3 linked regions of the Homo sapiens genome follow. The protein of the gene in region 1 purifies or fractionates together with the protein of each later gene. This does not show direct contact. Each region holds a gene or a part of one and is shown on either strand. Other genes may lie near its edges. The genes, in order: TMCC3, POC1A and RNPEPL1.

Evidence for each region.
Region 2: the proteins of TMCC3 (region 1) and POC1A purify together in Homo sapiens (affinity purification with mass spectrometry; one large-scale study listed by BioGRID and IntAct). This does not show direct contact.
Region 3: the proteins of TMCC3 (region 1) and RNPEPL1 purify together in Homo sapiens (affinity purification with mass spectrometry; one large-scale study listed by BioGRID and IntAct). This does not show direct contact.

The regions. Positions count from the first base shown.
Region 1 is NC_000012.12:94,581,039-94,584,687, forward strand, and holds part of TMCC3 (transmembrane and coiled-coil domain protein 3), read right to left. Parts: intron 1,501-3,649; coding exon 584-1,500; intron 1-583.
Region 2 is NC_000003.12:52,074,726-52,078,223, reverse strand, and holds the end of POC1A (POC1 centriolar protein homolog A), read left to right. Parts: intron 1-2,238; coding exon 2,239-2,337; 3' UTR 2,338-2,998; downstream 2,999-3,498.
Region 3 is NC_000002.12:240,574,927-240,578,575, forward strand, and holds part of RNPEPL1 (aminopeptidase RNPEPL1), read left to right. Parts: intron 1-103; coding exon 104-216; intron 217-575; coding exon 576-684; intron 685-1,608; coding exon 1,609-1,839; intron 1,840-1,921; coding exon 1,922-2,064; intron 2,065-2,672; coding exon 2,673-2,966; 3' UTR 2,967-3,649. UniProt on the Homo sapiens protein: Broad specificity aminopeptidase which preferentially hydrolyzes an N-terminal methionine, citrulline or glutamine.

The sequences.
Region 1 (3,649 bases):
ATTGGGTATCCCTTATCTGAAATGCTTGGGACCAGAAGTGTTTCAGATTTTGATTTTTTTCAGATTTTGGAATATTTGCATATATATACGGAGATACCTCAAAAATGGGACCCAAGTCTAAAGACAAAATTCATTTGTTTCCTATGCATCATATACACATAGCTTGAAGGTAAAAGTGTACCATATTTTAAATAATTTTGTGCCTCAAGTTTGTGTTAAGTATTTATTTGTGGAATTTTCCAGTTGTGGCATTGTGCTGACACTCCAAAAGTTTCAGATTTGGGAACATTCTGGATTTCAGAGTTTTGCATGAGGGATGCATCAATACATTAGGGATGTATTGATTGCTAAACGCCCTTTAATCCATATCCATATTTATTGAAAATGTAACCATAAGGCATTCTTATTTCAAGCAATCTCTCTGCAGTAACTCATCCTTTTAAAAGAATGCCACACCTATCACGTACCCACTAAGTATCCGTGGTAATAAAAAAGTTTTCAAAATGAAAAAATAAAATAACATAAAATAAAAAAATAAATAAATAAAAAATAAAAAACACGCCAATGGAATACTTTGAAATACCTGTATCTTTCCTCTTGCAGGGTCTGAGAAATAAAACCATATTCTCTCTTAAACTGCACCTTCAGTGCCTCGATGTCCTCAGCCAGCTGAGCTTGGGTATCCTTGATCTCCCTCAGTTCCTCCAGGATCACGGCGAGCTTGCCCTGGCTGTCCAGTGTGCTGGCTCCACCAGCCCCAAACGACTGGTTTCCGTTACTGTCGGCCGAGCCTGACGTGCCACTCGAACATTCATCATCACTGCCATACTTGGGTTTGTTCACGATGGTAGCGCTGCCCCCGTAGGCCCTGGCACTCGCCTCTGGCCTAAACTCCTCTAAGGAATTTTTCAAGTGAGCAATGTTGTCGGCGCTGCCAAACTTATTCCGGATCAGGTTGGCAAACTCTCTGGACTTATTGAAAACGAACACAGGTGGAGTAAGTGAGACCCCTGGCATGCCCGATTTGCTGCTCTCCATGCAATGGGGGGCAGTTCGAGATTTCACGTGGGCATCTTTCAAAGAGCGATGTATATCCTTCAGGTGGTCTTTGGAAATGTCCTTTGAGCTCCTAGAGGCTCCATTCTGCTCGATCTCTCTGAGCTTTCGATGATACTGCTCTAACTTCTTCTGCAGCTGGGCGATGGAGTGAGCTGATTTCTGATTCTTCTTCTCAAAGACTTGCTTGATACGTCCCGCCTGCTGCTTGTCTGCGTTGTTCACTAGTTTCAGATACTCCGCAACATTCCCATCGCGCGATGTTTGCTCAATTTTTATCTGCTCTGTTACCTTTAGAATTTTTTGCTTCAGGCTGTCTGCAGTGAGTTTGACCTTGTGGAAGTCCAGGATGCCATCCGGGACATCAAAGTTGAGGTTGGTGTCTGACCCCCCTCGGCGTATGTTCAGGGGCAGGCTTAAGGTATTCATGTCATGACGTTCTACCTGAAAGAGACAGGAAAGAAGCACATTAAAATTTGAAGTCAAAGAGATAATTACTGTGACAGAATCTATGCACATACAAGATACATACATGAAGTCCCAGTTTTTCGAACTACAAGTGTCACGGGATAAAATCCCCCTGCTGTCCCCTCCAGTTGAACATAGAGGCAGCCTGGCTCCTTCCTGCATCCATCTACACTAAGTAGCTGTGAGATTCAGATCTCCCAGGGTATCCACTTTTTTTGTGTAATGAGACTGTAACCTGGCTCCCAGGGTAGAAAACGCAAAATAGAATGAGGTCACCAGTCAGTCCCGGTCTCCCAAAGTGCCCAGGTAACTGGAATGCCTGCCATACCACATTCACTGGGAACTTCACCACTATGGGGAACGCATCCAACTCAGAACTCACTCACTTAATAGAAGGAGAATCTTTTTTTTTTTTTTTTTTTTTTTTTTTTTAAAAAAGAAAGATGGGGAAAAATAGGGAAAAAGATACGAGCAGGTACATCCATCAAACAAGAACATTATTTTCTTAATGGAATCATTAAATAGATGTGATAGAATAATATGGTACAAGATTAACTTTAATAATTGGGTAATACAACAGTATTTAGATATGGAAACAACCTCAAACCACACCACAGTGATATTAAAAAAAAAAAAGGCCGGGGGGTGGGGGCGTGGCGCTGCTGGGCGAGGTGGCTCACACCTATAATCCCAGCACTTTGGGAGGCCCAGGCAGGTGGATCACCTGAAGTCGGGAGTTTGAGACCAGCCTGGCTAACATGGTGAAACCCCATCTCTACTAAAAATACAAAATTAGTTGGGCATGGTGGTGGGCACCTGTAATCCCAGCTACTCGGGAGGCTGAGGCAGGAGAATCACTTGAACCCGGAAGGTGGAGGTTGCAGTGAGCCGAGATCACACCACTGTACTCTATCTAGACTGGGCAACAGAGTGAGACTCTGTCTCAAAAAATAAATAAATAAAATAATGAGAAAACTAAGACCACATAAAATAGTTTTCTCACTCAAGGGCCATTTAGGGAAAAGAACTGCAACGCAGCATTGAGTTTCCTGGTGAAGGGGGTGGCAAGTTTGTGCTCTAAAAGGAAAAGGCAGAAGTAGACCATATCCCAGGGTCTATGGATGCCTCTCATGGGTTGTCTCACTTCACTACCATGCCAGACAAAGAACATGCTAGATTCATAAACATGTAGACACCAAGGGTTAAGGCCAGGATTTGAATCCAAGTCATCCTAACTGTAACCCTCTTTCCATGTCAGGTCACTCCATTGTTGATGTTCCTGGAGGATGAAAAACAGCTCTTTGTAGAGTTCAAACACAATCTACAAACAAGTCTTAAGATCCAAACTGAAGCATCTCATTTGTCAATATCCCTTTGATTAGATTAATGACTTGATATACAGTCTTAATAGAAATCAAATGAGAAGCAAGACAATATTCAGCATGTTACCTTTTTTTTTAAGGAATTAGTGGGCTGACAGCAAAAAAATTAGTAAAAAATTAATGAATCTCCCACTAAGTGATATGGTTTGGATCTGTGTCCCTATCCAAATCTCATGTTCAATTGTAATCCCCAGTGTTGGAGGTGAGGCCTGGTGGGAGGTGATCGAATCATGGGGGCGGATTTCTCATGAATGGTTTAGCAACATCCCTCTGCTGCTGTTCTCATGGTAGTGAGTCCTCCTGAGATTTGGTTGTTTAAAAGTGTGTAGCACCTCCCGTCTCTTGCAGGCATCCTCCTGCTTTCGCCGTGGGAAGTGCCTGCTCCCGCTCTGCCTTCCACCATGAGTAAAAGCTCCCCGCAGCCTCCCCAGAACCAGAGGAAGCCATGCTTCCTGTACACAGCCTGCAGAACCGTGAGCCAATTAAACTTCTTTTCTTATAAATTATCAGGATTCAGGTATTTCTTTATAGCAATGTGAGAACAGACTAATGCTCTAGGTGATCCAGACTTGAATATGGACCATATCCAACAACGGGTATTAACACTTCACCACGTTATAAATCCTGCCCAGTGCTTTATTCCAGAGGAGGGAGCACAGCAGCACAGTGGGACACCATCCTAGATGGGCGGGTCAGGCCTCCTCCACAACTTACAAACATTCGTTAGCATTAGCTCTTAGCCC
Region 2 (3,498 bases), on another chromosome or scaffold:
ATGGTGGCCACCACGAGGCACCTTGGCAGAGAAGGAACAGGGGAAGCTGAGACCAAACACAGAGATGACACAGCTCCTCTGAAGCTAGGCTGGAGGGGGAGAAACTGCCTTGAGGGGTGTTGGGCCTCATAAAAGCCTGTTTGTCTACTGTGCTGTGAAGTGATCCTCAAAGCTCTCAGAGGAAGGCCTCAACGGGGTGGCACCCTTCATGCAGGGGGCTGGTTGTGAAACAGGTGATGCTTCTCTTTTCAAATAATTTAGACACATTTAGTGGTCACATTCCTACTGAGCTGAAGTATGGGCCCCCTATGGAACTAAGTGGAGTCCCTTGTATTGACGTTGGCCCAGCACCTCACCCACGTTTTCTGGGCCCACTATCTCCACGTTTGCAAATTGGGTTCCTGTGAAAAGTTTCAAGAAAAAAAAAAAGGCAGAAGAGGAAAAACAGGCTCCTCTGCTGCGGCCTTGAGTTTGGGGCCATCGGAAAAAGTCTGGATGAAGAATGATTTTGGCCCTATGAGTTTCACAGCAGCCAGTGGAAACTTCCAGGAATGCTGCCCCGGGCCAGCCAGGGGCTGTTTCCGCTGCCACTTTTACGAGCTGCAGACCCCCTCCCCGGCTGGCTGGCCAGCACAGGGGGAATGTGATGGTCTCTTTCAGCTCAGCTCTGCCTCTTAGGGTGCAGTTTGTGTTCCATGGGCAGCAATTTTTCCAGGCTCTGTCCAGTGACAGAGGGTTCAGAGCCCTCACAGCCCTGATTGGCCCATTTAGAAGGGGCCAGCCACCAGGCGGAGCACCCTCCATGGCAGCTAATGTCTGTGCCGGACGCTGCAAGAATTTATAGCAGCCTTAAAGGGGGAGACTCCCTTCTAAAATGTTTCAATGTTTTATTAAATGTATGAAAGAAAGTTTCCTTTCCACTGGACCAAGGCCCAGGACTTCATGGAGCCCCAGGGAAGGGGGCAAAACCTCTTGGGAAAGCACACGGGTGAGGTTAATCTGACCCTCCTGATGCCTATGGGCTGCACAGTACCGGAGTCAAGGCTGCCATACTCACATGGGCTCATCCATTGGCCAGCAGGGGCCTGGCATACAGTAAGGCACTCAGCCAACCCTAAAGAGGGAAGTGAAATGATGCCAAAGGCGTCATGGCCAGCATGGTCCAACCCGCGCAAGTGATGAGTGGGGCAGGCTTGCTCTGGTCCAGCCCCTCTTTGGGGAGCATGCAGGCTCCCAGACAGTGCTGCCCCTCTGCTGACACTCTATCCAAAGCCAGAGGAGGAGGGCAGCTTTTCCCAGCCTGTCTGGGAGCTATGTCTGCAAGACTGGCCCTGGCCCATGAAGCACATGCAGCTCCAGCAGCTGGGGGCCTTTGGCAGGCCAGGCAGCCAGGTCCGCAGGTGAGCCATTGTGCTGGGTGTGTAAGAGAGGCCAGGAGAGCAAGGGCCCAGCTTCAGGAAGGCAGCATGATCTGCCTGACAAGCACTCTGACAAGCATGGTCAGAGTGAGCAACTGCTGGGCTGCTGAGTTACCTAGGCCATGAGCTTGGTTGTCTTTCGCACTGGGCGAAGGAGGAGAAAGTGGGCTCAGAGAGATGAAGTTGTCATGGCCTGTGATTGCCCTGGGCTGAAGTCCCACATGACATATCCTATAGTAGTATTCGTTGGACTTGGACAGGCAGAGACCCTCCTGGGATCAGGGGACTCACCTCCCTGCCTTTGTCCCCTGCCAGCCTGGGAGGCTCTTCCAGGTGTGAGGGGAAGGACCCAAGTGGAGTGCCATCATTTGTGGGTGCAATTTTCTCACCTCTGGAGTGGAGGTGGTTGATGGTCTCCAGTTGTTTATGGACAGTGCCTGGCTCAGACAAGGAAACTGGTTTTGCTGCAGAACTCCAATATAAATGCCAGGCCACCAGGGTGGGGGGTTCCTGACCCCTTGGTTCTCTTGAGAAATGACCAAAGGCTATGGGACCTGCCATCTAGTTTCCCTCACTGTGTCCCCACCCCCTGCCCACAAACATTATAGATCAGCCATCCAGAGCCAGGAGAAGCAGACATAAAGGCAAGGGCTATCCCAATAGCACCAGAGACAAGGGGCCTGGCAGAACCCCTGGGTGGAAAGAGCCAGCTGGCATTTGGGCAGTGGCTGAGGCAGCCAAGTGGGGACTGGCCAAGGGGGTCCCTAGAGCAGCCTGGCGGCCCTTCTGTGTTCTGACCCAACCACTGTTTATTTTGCAGACAGTCTCCATTCTGGAGCAGCGGTTGACACTGACAGAAGACAAGCTGAAGCAGTGTCTGGAGAACCAGCAGCTAATCATGCAGAGAGCAACACCATGATCAGGGGAGCAGGAATCAGGAGCTCGGTGGATTTGCAGGTGGCAGGCCAGGGATTTGTACCATGGGACTTGGGTAAATAAAGGGGACTGAACTCTGTGGGAATCACATCCATACTGGAGCCCTGGATTTTTGCAGTTCTGCCCTCCACCTTGCTATCTGCACCAGGAGGCTCTCCACCTGGCAGCCAGAGGTCCCCAGTGGGCCGGGCTCACACACAAATGATGCTTCAGACCCGAATGAGAGGACCACATTTTGCTTAATGTAAAGGAGCCACTTGAAAATGTCTGCTCCTTCGGGGTCCTGAGATTGTGGCTCCCCCTCTGGAGGAGGTGGCTCCACGATGCCTTGATTTTCACTCATCATTTGGACATGTGACTGGCTTTTCCTACCTCTGCCATGGTGTAGAAATTGATTGCACATTGATTGGATGAGCCGGGGGTTTTCTCTAAATCTGACTAAAGGCCCAAAGTGGGCCCATCTGAGTCAGGTTTGTTGAGAACAAGCCCTCTCAAGTGGGTGGTGGCTTTTCAGTGGCCCTGATTTCTGTTCCACACGTGTTCACTGGAGCCAGGTGACTTCCTCCTTGCGTGAGTGAGGGCACAGGAATCTCAAAATTAAACCTGACTTCATTGCACTTGTTGCAGGAGTGGCTTATGCTGGATGACACTTAATCAATCTTCCCATCCCCAGGGCCCAAACAGAATGAGAATGGTGACTTGGGACGGCCTCTGCCAGGATTGCCTCTGAGGCCAGGACCCCCCTGTTTGCAGCTGTTCAGGGTGTCGGGGAACAAGGGCAGTCAGAGCCCTTGCATGCACCCACCTCCCTCTGGCTGGCCCCCACTGACTGCTTCTGTTGGGACTCAGAGGCCTCAGGCACCCAAGTTTCCATTTGCTCCTGAGGGCTTCCATAGGGTCCTCCCTCTGCCCCTGTGCTGGGGAAGCCAGGACAAATGTTTTCCCTGTGTCTGTGTGTCGCCCGTGCCTTCCGTCTTCAGCTTCTTGGGGCTCAGCCAGCCAAGGAGGTCTTTATCCTCAAACACACCTGCCCTGCCCTGGGGAATGGGAGGTGGTGTTAGATCGTCCCAGGAGCTGTCAGTACCACGTGGTCAGTGGGTTCACAGCCTCTGCAGCCTCCAGGTGGAAGCAGAGCCTGCATGCC
Region 3 (3,649 bases), on another chromosome or scaffold:
CGCTTGGCCCTTGCTGCTCCTCGGAGCCTGACCACTGCCCCTCCCTATTCCACGGGACACTGGTGGTTTCGGACGCCAGCCCAGGTGGGTGTTCACCTTGCAGGAGTGAATCCCAGCCACCTGATGAACCTGTTCACCTACGAGAAGGGCTACTGCTTCGTGTACTACCTGTCCCAGCTCTGCGGAGACCCACAGCGCTTTGATGACTTTCTCCGAGTGAGCAGCCCCCTGCCCGGGACGGCCCTGCTGCCATCTGCCCCCAGCCCCTCCCCGGCTCACAGGGCTGCCTGCTCTTGCGGCAGTTGGGGTGGAACTGGCAGGGGCCTGTGAGCCTGGCTGGGACCTAGTCTGCCTTTCTTTGTGGGGAGTGCCTGGGTTGCCACCTCCCCTTCTGCCACCCTGTTTGCTCCCTTGGCAGGGCCTGCGTGCCAAGTGCTGGCTCCGCAGTGCCCACTAGCTGCCCCTGTGCCCAGCACGTACCTTGGCGCACGCCCTGCAGTGCCCTGCAGGCCTCTGGTGGGGCTGCCTGTGCCCCACCCTTCCAGGCCTGCTGAGGCCCCACCTCTGCCACACAGGCCTATGTGGAGAAGTACAAGTTCACCAGCGTGGTGGCCCAGGACCTGCTGGACTCCTTCCTGAGCTTCTTCCCGGAGCTGAAGGAGCAGAGCGTGGACTGCCGGGCAGGTGAGGCTGACCCCCAACCCTGCAGCCAGGGAGCCGTGGGTATGATGGCAGGCGGGGCCTCTGCTGCCTGAGGGGCCACTCCACCTGGAGGAAAGCCCTGTCAGTTCACTGTCTGTCCTTCAGCCAACCCTTGCTGGACCATGTGGGCCCCAGGCTGGTATGCTATGAGAACAGGGCTGGGGTTGGGGGCCTCCCTGGGGCCGGTGGCACAGGCTAAGCAGGCCGAGTCAGGCACTCCCAGGAAGCGGGCCATGGAAACCAGGTGTGCAAAGGGCCTGGTGCAGGAAGGGCGGGTGACGGGGGTGTCCTGGAGCTGGAGAACAGCAGCCAGCCCTGTTTATGTGTCACTTGTAAAGGTGTCCCTGAGGGTCTGAGGGCTTGGGGCCCAGGAAGGCACTGCAGGGTTCAGACATTGAGGGAGAGGCCAGAATTGCTGGAGGGTGGTGAGGTGCCACTGGGAGGGCTGTGCATGGTGACACCAAGTTTTGGAAGGTACAGCAAGTGCATCAAGAGCTTTTTGTGGGTAGGGAATGGGCACTGCCCTTTAAGAGCAGGAATATCATCTTAAGAGCCTGTTGCCCCCATCCCGCCCCTGCTGGTTCATGGCGCAGGTGGCCTCCACCAGCACTGAGGTTGGGTTTAGACTACTTCATTGTCTTCCACCCAGGAGAGGCGTGGAGTGGGTGCGAGTCCCTTGGTCACCAACCCAAGTCTCTGCTTCCCTGTACCCCTTCACAGAAGCCCCTTCAGTGGCTTCAAGTGGCAGTGCTGGCTGGAGCTGACTCCGCCTTCCTGAACAGCCCACGTCCCTGGAACAGGCCACCTGCCTGGAACACACTCAGGGTCTGGGGTCTCCTGGGCAGATTGCTCAGGCAGCCCCTTCCTAGCCTGGGCAGGGACCCCAGGGTCACTTCTCCCCTCTAGGGCTGGAATTCGAGCGCTGGCTCAATGCCACAGGCCCGCCGCTGGCTGAGCCGGACCTGTCTCAGGGATCCAGCCTGACCCGGCCCGTGGAGGCCCTTTTCCAGCTGTGGACCGCAGAACCTCTGGACCAGGCAGCTGCCTCGGCCAGCGCCATTGACATCTCCAAGTGGAGGACCTTCCAGACAGCACTCTTCCTGGACCGGCTCCTGGATGGGTCCCCGCTGCCGCAGGGTGAGTCCCTGCAGCTGATGGGGGCGGCCCAGGGGCTGGGGTGCAACAGCGGCCCAGCCCTGACCTGCCCCCTGCGCTGCAGAGGTGGTGATGAGCCTGTCCAAGTGCTACTCCTCCCTGCTGGACTCGATGAACGCTGAGATCCGCATCCGCTGGCTGCAGATTGTGGTCCGCAACGACTACTATCCTGACCTCCACAGGGTGCGGCGCTTCCTGGAGAGCCAGGTGCGGTCACCTGCCCAGGGGGCCAGCCTGGAACGGCCTAGCCGTGCGGACTGGGAGTCCCACCCGACTCCCTAGTCTGAGCCCTTGGGGCAGGCCAGGCACATTCTGGAGAATGGGGCGGGGAAGACGTAGGGGTCTGTTGGGAGTGGGGGCATGCACCGGGTGCAGGTACCAGAGGGCAGCCTGGACTCCACCAGTTCTTGGAGAAACTGTGGAAGGGACCAGCTGGGAGCAGGAGTTTAGGGTCCAGGCCACCACAGCCTGCTGGGCCCTGGGCCTTCAGCGTCCTGGTCTGGGCAGAGGGGACGTCCCAGCTCCTCAGAGGGAGGCCAGAGCCCTCAGGCCCGTGGGCCCTGGCTGCCCTGCTCCCTGTATGTGCTCCCTCCAGCCCAGGTTCCCTGGAGATGGGGCCTCCATGGTTGGCCTGGAAGGGCAGGGTGGAGGTGGGAGGCTAATGGTAGGCCTCCTGGCCACCGGAGTCCAGGCCACAGCCCTAATGATGAAGCTGGGAAGCCAGGGGCAGGAGGGCCGCCTGGCCGGGCTGGCAGGGTGGGCTGGCTCGAGGGGCCTGGGGAGCCCACCAGTGTGACCGAGTGCCCCTCCTGCAGATGTCACGCATGTACACCATCCCGCTGTACGAGGACCTCTGCACCGGTGCCCTCAAGTCCTTCGCGCTGGAGGTCTTCTACCAGACGCAGGGCCGGCTGCACCCCAACCTGCGCAGAGCCATCCAGCAGATCCTGTCCCAGGGCCTGGGCTCCAGCACAGAGCCCGCCTCAGAGCCCAGCACGGAGCTGGGCAAGGCTGAAGCAGACACAGACTCGGACGCACAGGCCCTGCTGCTTGGGGACGAGGCCCCCAGCAGTGCCATCTCTCTCAGGGACGTCAATGTGTCTGCCTAGCCCTGTTGGCGGGCTGACCCTCGACCTCCCAGACACCACAATTGTGCCTTCTGTGGGCCAGGCCTGCCATGACTGCGTCTCGGCTCTGGCCATGAGCTCTGCCCAGGCCCACAAGCCCCTCCCCTGGGCTCTCCCAGGCAGGGAGAATGGGGAGAGGGACCTCCTTGTGTCTGGCAGAGACCTGTGGACCTGGCCTCCCCACTCCCAGCTCTCTTGCACTGCAGGCCCTGGGGCCAGCCCGCACACACCATGCCTCCTGTCTCAACACTGACAGCTGTGCCTAGCCCCGGATGCCAGCACCTGCCAGGTGCCGCCCCGGGGCAAGGGCCCCAGCAGCCCTATGGTGACCGCCACACTGTGCCTTAATGTCTGCCGGGGGCCCAGGCTGTGCTGTCCCTGCAGCACGCCTCCTTGCAGGGATCTGAGCCACCCTCCCCGCACAGCCCTGCACCCCGCCCCTGGGGTTGGCAGCCTCAGTTGGCCCCTGGCAGAGGAACAAGGACACAGACATTCCCTCAGTGTGGGGGGCAGGGGACACAGGGAGAGGATGGTTGTCCCTGGGGAGGGCCCTCTGGCCCCAGGCAACCTTAGCCCCTCAGAACAGGGAGTCCCAGGACCCAGGGAGAGTGTGGGGACAGGACAGCCTGTCTCTTGTAGCTTCCTGGGGTGGGAGGCACAGGGGC